Linked DNA regions of Homo sapiens: region 1 is linked to region 2. Evidence: fine-mapped expression QTL. A gene starts in region 2. The other region holds a variant in brackets. All regions are shown on one strand. Distances are between the middles of the regions.

Region 1 (8,000 bases), 36 kb after region 2:
CTCCCCCTAACCAGAGTTCTTGTCTGGGCATTCCTCCTGGCCCCGTTTGCCCAGCCTTCCCTGCTGGAAACATTCCTGAGGCTTTCGCCATTTCCTGCCACTTCCCGCCCCTGTCCCCTCCTCCCAGTTGGGCTGCGAAGCCACACACAGCTTTTCCCCTACACCCAATCACCTGGACTTCCAGTAGGCAATCTCCTTTCTCCCTATGTAAATTTCAAGAGTCATACGTCTTTCTTTTCTTCCGAACGCCCACACCCGTTGGTCCTTCCCTGGCTCTGGATACTGTAGGCTCCCACAGAACATCATCTCTACAGATGAGGGACATCCTAGTGTGTGTTTGTGTGTTTTGGGGGTGTGAGGCTATGGTGGAATCCTTTCCTCATTCTCTCTATGCCCGAGAGCTGGCTGGAAATGAAGTGATAAAATTCCTTCTCAGGATTGGCTGGCAGAGTGACAAAGCTCTTCTGGAATGAGCACTAAGGGGAGATGTAAGAGTTAAGCACAGCATCTAACACACTTCAAGTGTTAATGTTGTTAATCAGGATAATTATCTATCTATATTTTAATTCTCTGAAGTAAATCTAAGGGTAATTCCAAGGTGAGCTGGGGGGAATACGTATTTTTTTTTTTTTGAGACGGAGTTTTGCTCTTGTCACCTAGGCTGGAGTGCAATGGCTCGATCTCGGCTCACTGCAACCTCCGCCTCCTGGGTTCGAGCGATTCTCCTGCCTCAGCCTCCTGAGCTGGGATTACAGGTGCCCGCCACCACGCCCAGCTAATTTTTGTATTTTTAGTAGAGACAGGGTTTCACCATGTTGACCAGGCTGGTCTCGAACTCCTGACTTCAGGTGATCCACCCGCCTCAGCCTCCCAAAGTGCTGGTATCACAGGTGTGAGCCACCGCGCCCGGTAGGAATACGTATCTTTGTTTTTTTTTTTTTGGTCACTTTCCAGCTTTGCCTGTGGCATTCTCCGGAAGAGCAGTGGCAGGAAGCCGTGGGTGGCAGGAATGGGTTTGGGACTGTTCCCTGTGTCCAGCTTCAACCCATCTTCTCCTGACACCCCTTTCTCCTGTACTTATTTTTCTCCTGTCCTTATTGACGCAGATGTGTCTTCTGATCTCTCTGTCCCTTCCTGGCCTGTAGTTTCTACTTCTCTTGGAGAACTGTTTCTTCCACCTCCTCCAGCCAGGCTCCTTCCCTGGTGTGAAGGATGCTGTGCTCTTTGGTGGGGCTTAGGGCCCTGTAAGAGGAGGGATGTGAATTGGGGTGGTTTGGAGTGGGAGTGGGGACCTGATTGCCTCATTCTCACCCTTGACAGTGTGCTGTGTTAACAAGCCCTGTGGAAAGGGGAGACAGGACAGTGCTTGGCTATGAGCCATCGGTCTTGGTGTGGTAGATGGCATACGTAGAGAACAAGCCGTGACCAGCATGTCCTCTTGTTCCCTTCTTGCCTGGTAGCTTCCTGATGTATCATCCAGGTTGAACTTTATTCCCCTTTTTTCACCAGCTTTGCTCTTCCTCTTGGCCCTGCTCTGCATCCATTGGGACCACTTACTTCCCATCCCCACTTCGCTAGCTCCAGTCCACAGCTGCTGTAGCAGAGGATGCTAATGGCCCAGGCTTACTGTATGGGGTAGCGGTTGGGGGTGGCCTGGGCTGGGGCCAGCCAGCTTTCGGGCATAGAGAGGGTGGGGGAATTCGAGTGTCCAACCAGGACAGGAAGGGAAATGCTGAGCTCTGAGATCTCCTCCCTTTTCCACCCCCAGCTGCCTCTGTTTCCTCCCTCATTCCCCTGTACTCCTGCCTGGCTTCCTGCCCCCTTTGGCCTGCGTGTGTCCGGTTTTGAGTGACCCAGACCTCCTATCTCCTTCCTTTCCGTCCCACTCTTCCATCCTTCCCTCCCACCCCCACTTTACTTCTCCCCAGATTACTAGTTGTTTGTATAGGGCAGGGGAGAGGGGCTTGGATAGCCCTACCCCCTGCTCCAGTTCGAGGTTGGGGCGGGGTGGGGGCTCAGCCCCTCTGAGCCTGTGAGTCAGCACTGTCCTCACGATTGGTCTCTCCCCTTAGCTCCCCGCCCCTGGGGAGGAGCCAGAAGCGCTGGGTCCAGCCTGTTCTCTTCTCAGCCAGAGAAGAGGCTCCACGTTGGGCGGGGATGGGGCCTGAAACTGTCTGGGTCTGAGCTGGGGAGCGGAAGCCACTTGTCCCTCTCCCTCCCCAGGACTTCTGTGACTCCTGGGCCACAGAGGTCCAACCAGGCTAAGGGCCTGGGGATACCCCCTGCCTGGCCCCCTTGCCCAAACTGGCAGGGGGGCCAGGCTGGGCAGCAGCCCCTCTTTCACCTCAACTATGGATCTCCTGCCCCCCAAGCCCAAGTACAATCCACTCCGGAATGAGTCTCTGTCATCGCTGGAGGAAGGGGCTTCTGGGTCCACCCCCCCGGAGGAGCTGCCTTCCCCATCAGCTTCATCCCTGGGGCCCATCCTGCCTCCTCTGCCTGGGGACGATAGTCCCACTACCCTGTGCTCCTTCTTCCCCCGGATGAGCAACCTGAGGCTGGCCAACCCGGCTGGGGGGCGCCCAGGGTCTAAGGGGGAGCCAGGAAGGGCAGCTGATGATGGGGAGGGGATCGTAGGGGCAGCCATGCCAGACTCAGGCCCCCTACCCCTCCTCCAGGACATGAACAAGCTGAGTGGAGGCGGCGGGCGCAGGACTCGGGTGGAAGGGGGCCAGCTTGGGGGCGAGGAGTGGACCCGCCACGGGAGCTTTGTCAATAAGCCCACGCGGGGCTGGCTGCATCCCAACGACAAAGTCATGGGACCCGGGGTTTCCTACTTGGTTCGGGTGAGTGAACATCCTCCTCTCCATTCCCCCGCAGACCCCCTCCAGTTCTAATGCTCACTCCAGCTTGGCCGGAATCTCTTTTTTCCTGCTGTTCCCCAACAACCCCGTTTCAGTGTCCTATTTCCTAAACCTTTCTCATCCCTTCCCCGATTCTGTAGCCCCTTCCCTTCCAGCTTTGCCTGGGCCCCCTTCCTTCTTTTCACTCCCCCACCCCCACCCTGGCATGCTTAGCACAATGCCCAGCATGGCAGAAGCTCTTAATAAGTGTTGGAATGAATGACTTCTTGATCTTTCCTCCATTCTCCTCCCGCTTTCTGGAGTTGTCACTCCATCCCAGCCAATGCCTGTCGGTCCCCTCCAAACTCTCTCCCCAGTGTGTGAGGTCCTTCTAGCCTGCCTTTTCTTTTTCTCCTCATTCCCTGTTGTCTTTCACCTTGGTTGTGGGATGTAGCCACGGGAAGTGGGCAGAACTTCTTCCTCTTTACTTCCCTTAGGGACCATATGGGTAAAGTCCTAGGGCCCTTTGTGAAGGGGCTGGGGTGGGGGAGCCGCTGACCTGCTGTCCTCTTCTCCCTCCCCTTAGTACATGGGTTGTGTGGAGGTCCTCCAGTCAATGCGTGCCCTGGACTTCAACACCCGGACTCAGGTCACCAGGTTAGTGGGGAGGGAGTGGATTGTGGGAGTCCTGGGATTAGTGAGGCCATGGGAAACAGAGGAGGGGAGTGGGTCACTTGGGTGCTGCTGCTGGGGGCTGATCTTTGCGTAGTAAAGGGGATTGAGAGAAAGCTGAGGTAGTGATTCCGCCTCTTACTGAAAGGAGGCCCCTTTGGCCCGGATCCTCCTTACCTATCCAGCCTTGGGAGTTGTGGGGAAGGTGGCAGAAGCAGCTGGCAGGTGGAGCTGGAGTAGAAAAG[G/C]GGGGTAGATGGAAGGTTGCTGCTGCCTTTGGGAAGGGAATGGGACATTTGGTAGCTGGAAGGGGGTGGGGCTATACCCATTGAGGCCCTAACCCAATCAGCCAGGAAGTGGCCTCTCAGTGTCATCAAATATTAAAGGCCCTTAATTCAATCCACCATGACAAAGAGCCTGGAGTGCCCTGGGAGTCTGGCCTGGCTTTCCCCTCCCCCAGCCCTGTGGCAGCCCCAGTTGAGTGGGAGGCAGGCAGGCAGGCGCTGGGTCTGAGTACCCCTCTTTCCCCAGGGAGGCCATCAGTCTGGTGTGTGAGGCTGTGCCGGGTGCTAAGGGGGCGACAAGGAGGAGAAAGGTACTTGGGGTCCTTGGGGATAGGGATGCTGCTGGGAAATGTGGAGGGGCAGTGGGGAGGCAAGTGTGGGGCATGTGGGGAGAGGGCCAGGAGGCAAAAGTGTGGTTTGCCTGTGCTGGGAACCCTCACCTTCTGAGACCCTGGGCCCTACCTTAGCCCTGTAGCCGCCCGCTCAGCTCTATCCTGGGGAGGAGTAACCTGAAATTTGCTGGAATGCCAATCACTCTCACCGTCTCCACCAGCAGCCTCAACCTCATGGCCGCAGACTGCAAACAGGTTGGTGAAGGTGGGCAGACGGACCAGAAACACTGATGGGGGTGCTAAGGGGAGATCTAGTTAGGAGGCCAAAATCTAGGAAGAGGGCTTGAGAGCAGGAGACCAGTAGGGAAGGAGGAAATGAGGATATGGGATAAGGAACCCAGAGAATGAGACTGGGGCACCAGGGTTCTGGGCCCTGAGGCTGCCTGACACATGGCATTCCCTTCCTTCTTCATCCCCTGCCCTAATTCTCAGATCATCGCCAACCACCACATGCAATCTATCTCATTTGCATCCGGCGGGGATCCGGTGAGTTGGGGAACAGAGCAAAGGCGGTGGGAGAAGAGCAAGGGGCTAGGGATTGGGAAGACATTGATTAGAGAAGTGGGGGTGCTAGGATTGTGGGGATATCTGAAAAGGACTGGGTTTTAGGGGTCAGGAGTAAAGTAGAACTGTAAAATTTTTTGACCTTCCTCCCCAGGACACAGCCGAGTATGTCGCCTATGTTGCCAAAGACCCTGTGAATCAGAGAGGTGAGGCATGGTGGGGAGCACTGGGTGGGTCTGGCTGTTTGAGGAGGTGAGTAGGACCTTTGGTCATCTGTACCCACTCTAAGTAGATCTCAGTGGGGGTTCCTGCAGAGGAAGATGAGGGCCCCTGTCTGTGCCTCCTCCCAGTGGGCTCAGCTCACTGACAGCCTCTGCTGTGCCCTCAGCCTGCCACATTCTGGAGTGTCCCGAAGGGCTTGCCCAGGATGTCATCAGCACCATTGGCCAGGCCTTCGAGTTGCGCTTCAAACAATACCTCAGGAACCCACCCAAACTGGTCACCCCTCATGACAGGTGAGCAGGTGGGGAGAGTGTGGAGCAGCTCTTGGATTAGGATTAGGAAAGGAGGGCTGCTCTTCCTACACTTGAGTTGAGAGGTTCAGGGAGGGAATAACCTGTGTGCCTCTGCTTCCCACTTCCTGCTATTCTTCTGTTTCCTGTGGCCCAGGAGGAAAGACTTTTGAGGCCCTGCTTGCCGCAGGACCAGCTTTTCTTGTTTGCTCATGGTGGAGTTGTAGTCCGGGGCCTCCAAGTTACATCTCTCTCTGGCTAGGTGGGATTTTCTACTCCCATCCCTCTTTCTTGCTCATTTCTCTGCTTGGCATTATGTGTTTTCCTGCCTCTAGAAGCCATCAAGAATTTGGGTTTGGGAGGATATCTCTTTTCCCTGAGATTACAACCTTTCCCACCTCAGGCCTTGAGGGATAAGCAGTGGAGCCAGTAGGGATTGAATATTTAGGAGAGGTTAAAATATTCTGGAGCTGGAGTGCCTCCCCCGGCCCCCCACCCCCCTACATGGTGCTTCCCTTCCTTGTTGGGAGATAGCACAGAGATCAAGAGCAAGAGCATTACTTATTTGAGACAGTCTTGCTCTGTAGCCCAGGCTGGAGTTCAGTGGTACAATCACAGCTCACTGTAGCCTCCATATCCTGGGCTTGAGTGATCCTCCCACCTTAGCCTCCTGAGTAGCTGGGGCTACAGGTGCATGCCACCACACCTGGCTGAGTAGTAGTATTTTTATTCTGGTAGAGATAAGGTCTCGCTATGTTGTCCTGGCTGGTCTTGAACTCCTAGGCTCAAACAACCCTCCCTCCTTGGCCTCTGAAAGTGTTGGGATTATAGGCGTGAGCCATTGCACCTGGCCAAGGGGATGAGCTTTAAAGTCAAACCTGAATTTAAATCTGAGCTCGGCCGCCTTTTAGTTGTGAGACCTTGGGCAGATCTTTTCACCTCTGACCCTCATTTTCCTCATCTGTAAAAGTGGGGAAGGAAACAATACCTACCTTACGGGGTTGCCAGGAGAATGAAATGATTATGTATATAAAACACTCAGCCTCAGGCTTAATCCATAGTAAATACCCAATAGATGGCTGCTGTTCTATTCTGTCCTTCCCTCCTCCTGCCCACCACACATTTACAGCCACAGCTTCACTGTCCTGTCCCTCAGGATGGCTGGCTTTGATGGCTCAGCATGGGATGAGGAGGAGGAAGAGCCACCTGACCATCAGTACTATAATGACTTCCCGGGGAAGGAACCCCCCTTGGGGGGGGTGGTAGACATGAGGCTTCGGGAAGGAGCCGCTCCAGGGGCTGCTCGACCCACTGCACCCAATGCCCAGACCCCCAGCCACTTGGGAGCTACATTGGTAAGTTGCTTGGATGGAGGCGGGCTGGGGCTAGGGTGGGAGTGGTTGGTTAGGGCTTCTGGTCTCACCTTATTTTTATCCCTGCAGCCTGTAGGACAGCCTGTTGGGGGAGATCCAGAAGTCCGCAAACAGATGCCACCTCCACCACCCTGTCCAGGTATGAAGGGAGCCGAGATAGGCAGAGCTGGGGAGTGTTGGAGGCAGGGCTGGGATCACTGTAGAGCCTCCCTTTCCTCAGCAGGCAGAGAGCTTTTTGATGATCCCTCCTATGTCAACGTCCAGAACCTAGACAAGGCCCGGCAAGCAGTGGGTGGTGCTGGGCCCCCCAATCCTGCTATCAATGGCAGTGCACCCCGGGACCTGTTTGACATGAGTGAGTGCTCGTCTCTCTCCTCTCTGCATCCCCACCTTTCTACTTGGTTCTGGCCCTTCTCCTGCCTATCTGCTCTTTCCTTCCTGACTTCCCTTCCCTGAAGTCTGGGTCTTGGGTGTGTGTTGTGCCTGCTACTTCCCCTCACCCTCCCTCTATACTTCCAGAGCCCTTCGAAGATGCTCTTCGCGTGCCTCCACCTCCCCAGTCGGTGTCCATGGCTGAGCAGCTCCGAGGGGAGCCCTGGTTCCATGGGAAGCTGAGCCGGCGGGAGGCTGAGGCACTGCTGCAGCTCAATGGGGACTTCCTGGTACGGGAGAGCACGACCACACCTGGCCAGTATGTGCTCACTGGCTTGCAGAGTGGGCAGCCTAAGCATTTGCTACTGGTGGACCCTGAGGGTGTGGTGAGTGTGGCAGAGGTGTGGGTGAGGGGTGGCAAAAAGGAAGGTACAGTACCCTACAGTGTATCCCTCTTCCTTCCCTCATTGCTTTGTAGACATTCCCGCTGGGCAGCTGTCTATGGGCCTCTCTTGCTCTTTAAAGTGTCTGGCATCTTCCTCCAGAGGCTCATCCCTTAGCCTGAACTATGTTCTTTATAGTCCTGGCACAGGGCCAGGCGTGGTGGCTCACACCTGTAATCCCAGCGCTTTGGGAGGCTGAGGCAGGTGAATCACCTGAGGTCAGGAGTTCGAGACCAGCCTGACCAATATGGTGAAACCCTGTCTCTACTAAAAATACAAAAATTAGCCGGGTGTGGTGGCAGGCACCTGTAGTCCCAGCTACTCAGGAGGCTGAGGCAGGAGAATTGCTTGAATCTGGGATGCAGAGGTTGCAATGAGCTGAGATCACACCACTGCACTCCAGCCTGGGTGACAGAGTGAGACTCTGTCTGAAAAAACAAAACAAAACAAATACAGTCCTGGCCCGTCCTCAAATCCCCAAGCCTTAAGCTTATCAGAGCTAGAAGGCAGTCATCTCATCTGTGCCCCTCTTTTGACAAATAAGGAAACCACCCTGAAGAGGTTGTGATGCCCAATGTCAGATGGTTAGAGGCTAGACACTGCAAGTT
Region 2 (11,342 bases):
TGGGGCCCAGGAGCTGCAGCCATCTGGATTGCCCAGTTGGGGAGGGAAGGTAAAGGGGCTGAGCCTCTTCTCACATGAGGACTAGAAGGGCTTCAAAGAAGAGGTTCTCTGCCCAGGGATGCTCTGACATTTATGGAGCCCTTCTCTCCCCACCCCAGCCCCTCCAAGCTTGTGCATGCCTTCCCCATCCCCCATATGACGCTTCCCCCTCCTAACCTCACCACCCCCAGCACTCACACTTCCTGGGGGCCGAGGCGGGGAAGAGAGACCGCAAGCCACGAAGGGGGAAGGAGGCGAGGGGAGTTGGCTGCTTCCCGGTGCTGTGGGGGTTAAGTCTCTGCCCAGCTCCAAATCCCCCAGTCCTGGTTCTGGGGCTCCTGAAATGAGGGAGACCTTAATGCTTCCCTACATTTTCTTTCCATGACACCAGCCCTTGCCCATAGCCCCTTAGTCCCCATCAAGGGAAATATGAGGAAGATAAAAGATGGCGGAGGAAGGAATGGGGGCAACTCTCTCAGCCTTAGCGCCGCCACCTTTGGGTATTCCCTGCCATCATCCAGCCCTCACTCTTGCCCCTCTCTTGGCCTCCTGGTTCTGTCCCCTCATTGCCTCCTCCGACCCTTGTCTTCCCTCCACAAGTCCACCCTTTGCTTTCCTTCCTTCAGCCCTCCCTGAACTCCGCATCCTCTCCACCCCATCAGTGTCCCTAGGCCTCCTCCCAGGAACTGTCCCTGCCTCTCCTTTCTCTTCCCCTTGGTTCTCTCTTGCTCAAACTTCTCCACTTTCTCCATTGGCCCCCTGCTCCAACCATCCATTCCCTTCTTCCCAGGCATATGAGGGGTGGAGAGCCGCAGAGGAATTAAATCAGGGACCAGGCCTGCCTTCCAATGCCTGGTCTTGCCAAAAGATGGTTGAGTTTAGGGCACCCACACCCCACTTTTGGATGAAGCAGGGGACCACAATTTGGGAGCCAGTTGGGGAGAATGAGTGGTGGAGGGGGGTTTGCAGCGAGAGCGGATGTGGGGTGGGGGTGGGGGGACAACCTGTGCCTCTCTGCCCGTCAGAGTTTCCAGCCCTGGAGCTGCTGGACTTTCCCCGGAGGGTGCCCACCCTGGACCAGGCAATTGTCCACTTGGACAGACTCTGGCCATCAGGATTCTCAGCAGGGTCTGCCTGGACAGTGCCAGCTCCCCTTAGGGCCTGAGGAGACCGCACAAGGTGCCAGGGTCTGCCCTGTGCCCACCCCCTCCCCCCCAGCCTAGTGTCTCCGGCTGGGTAACCGAGCTGGCTGGTAACCCCACACCCGCCAAGCCGCCAGCAGAAACCTGAGCCCCCCAGCCCCAGAGGACACCCCAGCCCGATCTCCGGAGCCCGGCTCTCTGCCAGCCTGTCCAGCCTCCTGGCCTGGCCCAGCAATCACTCAGTCCCTATAGGCCCCTCTTCTGCCTCTCCTGATCTGCTCGGGTCCCCTTAAACACTGAGGCCTCCCCACATTCCCGCTTCTCAAGCCCTCAGTTCCCTAAACTCTCTTGTGAAGTCTGGGCACCCTCTTCCTGACCTGTTTTTCAGTCCTCTGACCCTTGGCTAATTCTAGGCCTCCAAGCCCCCCTGGGGCCTGATCTCCCAAGCCAGAGCAGGGCCTACTCACCTGAACGCTGAGGGGCCTGGCGGCAACTCCTCCTGGCCCCTGGGGGCAGCAGGTTGGGACAGGTGGGGGAGGGCCAGGCTTGGGGGGAGGTAGGGTGGCTGTTCCCCGCTCCAGCTCCCTCCTTCAAAGGGGCCGCCCACGACCTGGCCCAGCCCCTCCCCCCTACAGCCTTAACCCTCTGGGTGCTGTCCCCCCTCCCCCCAGCTTGGAGGGAGGGGTTACCGGAGGGCTGGCGGCGTGGGAGAGGGCCCAGAGTCTCTGCCTGTGGTGCCTGAAGCCCCAGCAGAACCCACCCACTCCTGTCCTTACTCAGTCCTAAAAGAGGAAAAAGGTGAGGGGTAGGAAAGGTAGGAGCTGGGACAGTCCAGGAGGACAGAGATGAGGAGGAGCAATGGGAGAGGCTACTGGAGGTGGGACCAGGAGAAGGAAGAAGGGAGGGGAGGGGACGGAGGCAGCTGTGGCTAGAAGAGGGAGGAGGGGAACCCTGGACAGTCAGTGCCAGGGGTGACAGGTGCCTGGGTCCCAGCCCCTCAGAGTATGTGGGATGGGGACCACAAGGAAGCCCTCTAGACCCCAGCAAGCTCCTCAGTCCCCCTGGGAGCTGGCCGAATTCTCCCTACCCTGTACTGGGCTGGGGCCCTCAGGGGCTGGGCAAGGCGGCACCCCGCCCTCCCCATAGCCTCACCCCAAACCCACTCACATACCACAGTTCCTTGCCCGGGTGCCAACCCCTGCCAACCAGGCCAGGGGGCAGCACTCATGCCAGCCCCCAATAGCCAGGGGGATCAGGGGGAACAGAGCTGGCCTGAGGGGGATAGACAGATTGGGGGAGCTGTGGGCACCGAAAGAGGAAGGAGCTGGGAGGGGGCATCTGCTGGGAAGCGCCTAGCCCCACCCCTTGCGCAAGCTGCTGCCACCCTGGCCGGTTGGGTGGGACCCGCCTGGGCCTGAGGGGCAACTCAGGAGAGCTCTGAGCCCAGACATGGATGGGCCACCAAATTTCACTTAAACAACTCCTGGGGTCCCTTATTCCTGGAATGAGGGGTGCCCTAGTGACCCCCAGACACTAGGCCATCCCAAATCCTGCTAGGCTTGGGGGTACCATAGAAATGCCCCCTAAAATATCCCCTCCCCTTTCCCCCAACAGCTGCTGGCTCAATGCCGCTGGCCTGCTGCCCCTCACCAGCTCCCGGCCCGGTTGGCACCTACCCACCAGGATGCTGGCAGTCCTGCCCTCCTCTCCCTCCTACCCCCCTGCTCCCAGCGCCCCATGCCAACTGTGGGCCTGAGGTGGGGGAGGGTCACCCTGTGCCTTGGTGCCAGCCAGACGGGCCCAGGCCCCTAGGCCTTACAGATAAGGCCTAAGACCCTGTTCTCAAACCACCTCCTCAAGAGGTAGCACACTGGTCAGGGCCTACACAGAGAGAGCCTAGGAGGCAATGGACAGCCCTGTGAGTAGTTAATGAAGGCTCCACACCCCAGGGTGGGGGCCAGTGTCTCTCCCTACCACCAGGTGCCAACCTCCCGGCATTCCCCCTGCCCAAGCATTTGCTTGGGCACCAAAGTCCCTGCAATTCCTGAGAGCCCTAGTGCCTGCAGCCTGCAAGGGAGTGGGGTGGGGCTGCTCTCTGCCCTTTGATCCCCATAAAGGGAGGGAACCAGCCTAGAGGGCAGGGGGCAGGGAGGGAGTTCATGGGGCCCCTCTGTTTCACCCCTGCCAGGGGCAGCAGGGCAGGGTGTGGGCATCTTTTGGGTGGGGCCCTAAGGTGAGGACAGGTAGCATGTCTCAGCAAGGGAGATGGATGTCAATCATAGGTACACAGCATCCCATGGCAATGCGATAGCAAGAATAAAGTGGGGGGATGCAGAGGGTACCCACATTCCAACCCATCCCAGTTCTGACTTTCACCTTCATCCAGAAACACTTCCAGACTCAGCCAAATTGAGAGCTCAAGGACTACAACTCCCAGTGTGCACCACAATTGCTTTGTATGTACCTTGGGAGTTGTAGTCCCCCTTGAGAAGCTCTGGGTTCTCCTCTTCCCCAGAGCCTTGCTGATGGGTGAGAAGGGCAGATGACTTGGTCATGAATCTCCAAGGGGGCTAGGTTTAAGAAGAGGTAAAAGGCTAGGATGTCCATGGTGGAGGAAAGAGGACCCCTGCTCCCAGGCAAAGGGGGAGGAAAGGAGGAAGGAAGGAGGAGAGGATGTCTGTTGAAAGGGGCATATGGGTGGGGAGGAGTTGGGGGGACGGTGGAAACAGGAAGGAAACTGAAGCCAGAGACATGAGGTCGAAAGTAAGGGCCTGGGGGAGCCCCACTCTGAGGCCTGTCAGGGACTGGGATGGCATTTCCCCATGTCATTCTGTTGGCCTGGGAGGAAGAAGAGGATCAGTGATGTCAAAAGATAGCAAATTGACATATTTATGGGGGATCACTGTTTCATTTGCCTGCCATCAGCCCTCTTTTGCCTGGGGCACCTTCGACCCCTGAATCTGGCACAGGTATTTGCTGACTGGGAAGCTCTGAAGGCTGACCTGGTTCTGGGGAAGATAGCAGGCAAAGGAAGGGGTTTGGGGAGATCAGGGCTAGGCCTGATGGTGAATATGGTAGAGGTATATGTGGGGTTAGGCCCAGGTGTGGTCAGGGCAAGTGCTGGCAAATGAGAATGCTATCCTCCATAGCAGAACCATGGCATCTGGAGGCCTCAGGGAAGAGAGGGCTAAGATGTCCATCCCAAACTATGGGACAGGATGAAGAGGGCAGCCCTCTCTGGTCTCCCTGGGGAATTTGTTAAAGGTAGCTTTGTCCCTGTGCCAGTGAATATTAAAGATGGCAACTCAGGGGGCCAGGTGGTAGCTGGGTGCCTTTCCCTAGTAGAGGTGGAAGTCAGAAGTGGGCAGAGGACCTGCTTTGAAGCCACTTTTCCTGGGCTCCCCAGGGCTCTGGGACAGATGCTGGCAGGCCCCAGCCAAGACTCTTGCCAAGACCTAGGCCTGGCTGGGTGTGGGGGTCTTTCTTGTCCCCACCCCACCAAACACTTGATGGTGGATGACAGCAGCTCTATCCCCTTCCTCCCAGTCCCCCGGGCCCGCCTTGGCGCCTGGCCGCTTCTGTGTTGGCAAGAGTGGGGGGGAGGGGGCAGCGAGGCAACTTCAAACTGTCCGGGCAAAACGTCAAGTTTACTCACGAGTTTACTCAGCACAAGGAGGGGGAAGAGGCCAGGGCGGGCACACCCCATGCCAGGGTCCTATCCATCTGCCTGTCCCCACCTTCCTCCCCCACTGTTCTCTCCCGCCCTAGGCCAAAACAGGCATAGGCCCTAAGGCCTGGTGTCAGGGCAGTCTTAACTCTCAGGAAGGTCAGGGAGCCAAGCGGGGCAGAGGCAGGAAGCCCCGCAGCAGGCCCAGAGGCTTCTGTCAGAGGGCAGTGCCCTGCCTGGAGCCCATTCACTACTCATCTTGGGGCCTTGGTCTTGGGCCAGAAGAATTGGGTCTCTCAGCCATTAAGAAGGGGGCAGTACCAGGCCAAACCTTCTCCATCTGAGCAGTCCCCTGGGCAGTGACTTCTGACCCCAAATGCCCAGTCCTAGGCTGTCCCTCAGTCTGATGCCATCCAGGCAGCCATAGGATCAGGGGCTGGTTCTCTCAGCCTTGGCTTGGAATGGGGGGCTGGCACCCTATCTGACCTACTTCCCTTTCCTCCCCACCTGCTTTCATTTGCTTCTCTCCCCCAGCCTTCACTGTCCCCACCCCAGAGCGCTCCGCCCCCCATGCCTGCTGGGCCCCCTCCCCCACCCTTCCCCAGGGTGCCAAGTGCAGGCACACAAAGGGCCTGATGGTGCATTGTTAGCCCAGCCCCCGCTGCCCGCCGCACCCTCCCTGGGCAGGCACTAGGCCAAGGAGGAGCTGGGGGCCCTGGGTGCCAGGGGGCACCATGGGGAAGAAGAAGGGGACAGCACCTGTCTTCCAGACACTGGGGTCTACATCAGCCAGAACTGAGTAGTGATGAGAGTCCCATTAGAGCAAGCCTGTCTCCTTGACACCTGAGCCTAGTGGGCACTGCCTTCTTTCTTCCCCAGAGCCCCATTCTGGTGGTATTAACCCCTTTTTGACCCCTGTGCCAGGGCTGGGGGTGTGTGGTACCCAAGGGAGGGGACAGTGTCTGGGGGTGCCAGCAGGTTGTGTTGTGCCCACAGCAACCATGTAACAGAGGCACGCTGGGGGAGCTGGGGTCCCTGGGGCCAGGGACAGAGGCACTGACAGAGATTTCTCCTTGTTTCATCAGCTGCTCCAGGGGGAGCCCCCTACCCTTCTCCCCAGTTACCACTAAGGAGGAACACTAACTATCATCCAGACATAGTCACACATATGTCCCTCTCTAGCGCAGCACAACACTCCTTATGCCCACTCTCTCCTCCCCAACCTGATGTCCACTCCATGCCAGCTCTCCCAGCAGTGCCAGGCGGGTACAGGGGTGACCAAACCAGTTGGTGTGTGTGGGGCAGCAGGAGGCAACCCCATAATCCTCCAGGCCTCATCCCCACACTCACACATACTCCCTTAGGGACCAGACAGTTCCCATCCTGCTTTAACCCCTCACAGCCCAATCTGGTTCCCCCGTCCCTGATAAGCGGTCTCCCTCCTCCAGGAATAAGTTGGGGGAAGGGGGAATAGCTGCGCTGACTCATTCCCATTCTCGGCTGCAGCTAGGGGTCTCCAAGGCATTCGGGCGGGGGTCAATTCAAGAACACCCTCCACCTGGCCCGGAAGCCTGGACAGCCTGCCGGTCTCCCCCTCTCCCCAGCACCCACTTCCGGTGTCCCAAACTAGGTCAGCAGCGCTCGTTTCCTGTGGGTCAGCTAGCACCGGCGCCTCTGCCCCTCCCCTGCTCCGGACCCAGGCTCCCCGCCCCCCTGCCCCCCAGGGCGCCCCGAGGTCTCACCATGTCTCAGCCGCCCTTTGATACGTGGGGGTTGTGCGGGGCGGGGGGCAGGGGACCCGCCCTCTCTCTAAACACCAGCAGGGCCGGGGCGCCTGGGCAGGCACGTGTCCGGGCACAACCCGCTGCCCACGCCGCCCCCCCACTCCCGCCCCCACCTCGCTCTGGCCGGGACACGTCGCTCTCTTACTTGGGATGGGGTGGGAGGAGGGAGAGAAAGCTGGAAATTGAAAGCAGCGCCCCCCACCCCTTTGAATGGCAGCCTTCTGCCAGGCGCACTCTGTAGGTTCTACAACAACACAGTAGCGACCCCCACTCTGGGCTGGGGCAGGTGCGCCGGCGCCGGTGGGGGGACGGGTAGTAGGTAGGAGAATTCTTCCTAGTCACCCGCCCTCGCTCTTGGGTTCTGTGGTCATGAGCTGGCGTGGAAAAGGTAGCGGCGGGACTGGAGCCTGAAGGAAGGGAGTGGGATTGAGGGGCAGGGAAGAGAGCGGTCGTTCTATGTCGGTTCAGAGGTTGTTGCTGAGCCCCACTACCGCTGGAGAGAGCGCGGCTCTGGAAGCGCAAGAAACCGAATAGTCCAGCCGGTAACTTTCCCCCAAGCCGCGGCTCCTCCTGCGCCCCCCCAACCCCCATGCAACTGGCCTGGGGCCAATCCACCGCGCCAGGGGGCGCGGGGTGGGGGGGGGGTGCGCGTTGTCCTAGTTAGAGTCCGTCAGCGTTTCCATTCCCTCAACTCAGTCCGGTCTGGGGTCTCCCCCTAAAGTCACGAAGGAGACTGGGGGAACGCTCAGCGTCGCCTCACCCCCTCTCCATCCCGAAGCCGTCTGTCTGTCTGATCCCAGGAGAAGTGCAGATAAACTTTCTGGGGACCCTCCGCCTAGGGTTGGGGGGCATCCGCAGTTCCTTCTCTGTCTTTCATCTCAGTTAAAACCAATTCCAGAGACCCGGGGTGTTGGGAAAGCACAGGGAAGGGGAGTGGTGGGAATGTGATCTGCATGCGTGTGTATCTGGGGGTCCCACTTACAGGACGGACGAAGGACACTGCAGTAGTCTCGAGCCTAGTGAACCCCGAGCCAGGAGACAAAAGTGGGGTACACTCACCTCTCAGCCGTCGGGTCCGCTGGCTGGAGCTGCTGAGGCTCACAGTGTGGGAAGAAGCGCGTCCCCCACCAGGCCCGGGGGCTTGGGGCCCTGCTCCGGTCCTGGTCAGAAGGCCGCGGTCAGTTGCTCGCCGCTCGCTGCTGGGGGGCTCCTCCTCCGCCGCCCTCTGCCTCCTCCTGCCGCCCGCCCCCCCTCGGCCGCCAAGAGCCGTACATTCACCTGGCTCCCACCCGCCCCCCCCTCAGGGCCCGCCTCACCTGTCCTGCTGTCTCACCTGTCCTCCAGCTTGCTTTCCCCCCATCCCTCCCCTCCCTCCCCCCGCCCCTGCCACCCCCCAAACTCCCCCCCCCCAACACTTAGAAACACCCTCTGTCACTTCCTGGTTTTTCACCCGCCCCCCCAGGCCCCCTCCCTCCGCCCAATAAGGACATAAACTTCAACCCCTTCGTCCAGCCAGTCCCTGCAGAGCGCAGATGGGTCCCTCCCTCCTTTTTTGCCCCCTTCTCCAAACTCTTACTTAGCTCTCCTAGCCTTTCCCACCCTCCTCCTTTCCCTCCTTCTTTCCTTCTCTCTGTCTCCCTTCACCTGCCGCGGTCCCTCTCTCCCCCCCCTTTCTCCTGCCCCTATCTCTCCCAGTCCACCTTAACTCAAACTCCGCCCCCGGCCCCCATCCAGCCCTTTGCTGCTGCTCTGCCCGCCCCCTGCACGCCACCGCCCTGTCCGCTCATTGGCCTGAATACCCGCTCATCTCCAGTAGGTCTCGCCTTGCGTTCGTCCAGGGAGGGGGCGGAGCCGAGGGGCTGGCCTGGAACCTGGAGAGGAGGGGGGAGGGGGCAGTGTCCGCAGCGGCCAGGGAATCGAGCACCCCCTACAGGGGCTCCCTCTCCTTCAAGAGGGGCTTCTGTAGGGTCAGGACCTCAGGAGGGAAGGGTATGAGAGGTTAGGGATAGGCTGGGTGGGGGTGAATTGGGGACTTAGGGTCTTGAGGGAGGGGGTCCCGTGAGGGGCTGTAATCAGGTCAGGGACCTAGAAGGGAGGGGGAGGGGGAGCCACCAGGCCTTCGGCTCCGGCCCCTACGCCCCACCCCCTCTCGGAGGGAGCCGGGGAGTTGAGCCTGCGGGCGCCCTGCGTCCCTCCCCACGCGTGACGGTGCCCCGCGGGGAGGGAAGGGCGCCCCAGGCAAGCAGCCTCTGTGCTGTCGCCAGTGCCCGCTGCGGCCTTGGCATTGTCGGAGGGGAGGGGCCCAGTCTGCGAAGGGGGAGGGGGCGCGCCGACGCTTTTGCTCCCCACCTCCATCCCGCGGGTTCCCTAAGTGGAGAAACTGAGTCTCCACCGAGGAGGGATAGCTTGACATGAATTCGCTGAGAGACCCAGGTGGCGAGGGGTGCCTGGATGTTTTGGGATGTGTGGTATGTGTAGGTTTTGGGGAGGACCGGGATAAATACTTAGGAGTCCCCCAACTGAGAAAGGTAGCGGGTGAAGGATGTTTCTGACTGAGCCTGCGGAGCTGCGTACCCCAAAGGGCCCCTCCCACTAGTGTCAAATGGAATCAAATCCGGCTACCTAGGGCCAGGTTTGGCTCCCCTGCGACAAGCCAGGCCGAACCGGGTCGGACTCGCTTTCCCCTCCCAACCCCCCTCCGCAGGGGGCCTCCCTCCCTTTCCAGCAGGTGGCTTCTCGGGACACCAGCTCAACCTGTTGGACCACAATGGGCGGCGCCAGGGGGGCCCTGGCCCTCACCCGGGCTGACCCGGGATCCCCGCGCACGAGGGGCGGAGTCCAGGTCCCTCCCTCCCTCTTTCTCCCTCTCTCCCTCTCCGCGCCGGGCCGTGACTCAGCCTCGGGGCCGCTGCCCTGCGCCCCAGCCAGGGGCGGAAAGTGTGAGGCGCCCCTGAGGGCTCAGGCCAAACCAAACAGCCCCCCACCCCAGACATTATCTCACTGGAGAATTAGGGGGGCTATAGGAAGGAGGAGGTAGCGGCAGGCATGGGGCGCTCTGGCTCGAGTAATCCGCTCCGGGTTTTCCTATCGTCCCTGACCCCCTTGGGTCGCGAGGCTGATCACTGCTCCGGGTTTTCTTCTCAGCCCCGCCGGACAGATCCTGGTCCGGAGGGGCCCGGAGCCGTCCAGGCCGGGGTTTTCCCCTTCCTACTCCAGCCGTCTGGGTCGTGCAGGCCTGGTGAAGGGCTGTGCTAGGGGCTAGGCGGCAGTGCCACAAGTGAAATGGAGAGGGGGCTGCTTTGGGGAGGAAGGAGGATAGCCAAGGAAAGGGGGCGGGGGGCAGGGGGCGGGGGGCGGGGGGGGTGGGAACGTGGCCCGGGGAGGGCAGAGCCAGGGCTTCCAGAGGCAATAGAAGGGCGGGCTCCCTGGCACCAGCCTTTGGGTACAGAAACTCGAAAGGTGCCCAGTGCCTCAGGCTCGCCTCGCCCAACTTCCCCCATGTTTGAGGGTCGCGTTCTGCGTCTGGCTGAACATGACTGATCTTTCTGCGGCTAGATTGCCACTCCTCACCTCATTCCCAATGGTCCTGGAACCCGCAGTTAGTTCCTCAGTGACGCCCACCCTCCCTTGTCTCTCTTTTTCTCCTGGTGCAAATAGCTCCCCTCCTTACTCAGAAATCGGAGCGGGGAACCCCTACTTGAAATTCCCTCTTACCCCAACCCCTAACCACGCCAAACGACTGAAACAGCGGCGGCAGAGAAACGCTGACTGGGGACCCCGCCCCCTCCCATGAAACCCCTGCTGGGCCCCAGGGGCCGGCCGCCCCCGCCCCGCCACTAGGCCCAGACTGGAACTGGGAGCTGGAGGGCAAGTGAGGGGCCTGCAGGGGCCGCCTGGGGATAGGAGAGCGTCCCAGATCCGCATGTTAAGACTTAAATTTTTAGGTGACCAGCTAGACCTTAAATTTGGGGAGAGTAGCACGAGTTGGACAAATACCCAGAGAAGGAAGTGTTTACCCTAAGAGAGGAATGAAAGCCCCGAGTGGGAGGACTGAATACCTGGGGCTGGGGACAGCGACTCGGAATGACGGCCAGGTGCGCGGACTGGCCGGGCCACGTGCGCCGAAGGGTAGAAGCATAGAAGTTAGATGCTTGCAGAACCTGGGGGAATGAGGCCTTCAGGTGTTAAGAAAGGCGAGGCTTTGCCTGGGCGGGGTCCTGCGTGAGTGGGTCTGGGGGCCTGTTTCGGAATGTGGGGGGCTGAGCTGCAAGCGGAGCGTCAGCATGCGCCAGGCGCCCACCTCTTCTCCGCTGCTCCCCCCCATCCTCCGCTGCCTCCGCTTCCCTCGAAAAACCCGCCGCCCAGGAAACCGCTGGGGGCGCTCAGACCGCAGACCCCCCACGCCCCCCGCCCCCCAGCGCTCCCACCGCGACCGCCCAACCCACCTGAAGGGGCCGTGGCCGCCAGGGGTACCCCCCTCCCGCCGACTCCCCCCAACACCTGCGGGTGGCACTATTTATAACTCCGCGCCTATTCCGGGCCTCTGGGTTGGAGCCGGCTGCCGCGCAGCGCTAATCGCCGCCGGGATCTCTGCGCCCCCCAAGGCCGGGGGAGGCAAATTTAGCTTCAGGAAGCTCAGGGGAACAGTTTCCAAAACTCCACGTCCCAGAGAAGGCAAGACAACCCCTCTGCACTCAGCCTCCTTCCGAT

The links.
Region 1: its variant is fine-mapped to the expression of ZBTB7B in whole blood (INTERVAL, PIP 0.98).

Annotation. Positions count from the first base shown.
Region 1 is chr1:154,964,878-154,972,877 of GRCh38, reverse strand. It overlaps SHC1 (SHC adaptor protein 1), which reads left to right and starts at 2,131. Exons shown (of 12, transcript NM_001130040.2): 1 at 2,131-2,846; 2 at 3,430-3,500; 3 at 4,044-4,107; 4 at 4,264-4,383; 5 at 4,621-4,674; 6 at 4,847-4,898; 7 at 5,081-5,207; 8 at 6,361-6,559; 9 at 6,647-6,716; 10 at 6,798-6,932; 11 at 7,097-7,335. The coding sequence starts at 2,352. RefSeq lists enhancers at 2,253-2,803, 2,804-3,354. The variant G/C (reference allele first, on the strand shown) is at 3,761.
Region 2 is chr1:154,999,293-155,010,634 of GRCh38, reverse strand. ZBTB7B (zinc finger and BTB domain containing 7B) reads right to left here and starts at 7,833. Exons shown (of 3, transcript NM_001256455.2): 1 at 7,692-7,833. RefSeq lists enhancers at 1-729, 2,231-2,945, 5,189-5,861, 10,725-10,784, 10,302-11,254 and silencers at 5,355-5,404, 5,465-5,514, 6,565-6,684, 8,395-8,584, 8,695-8,934 and 4 more.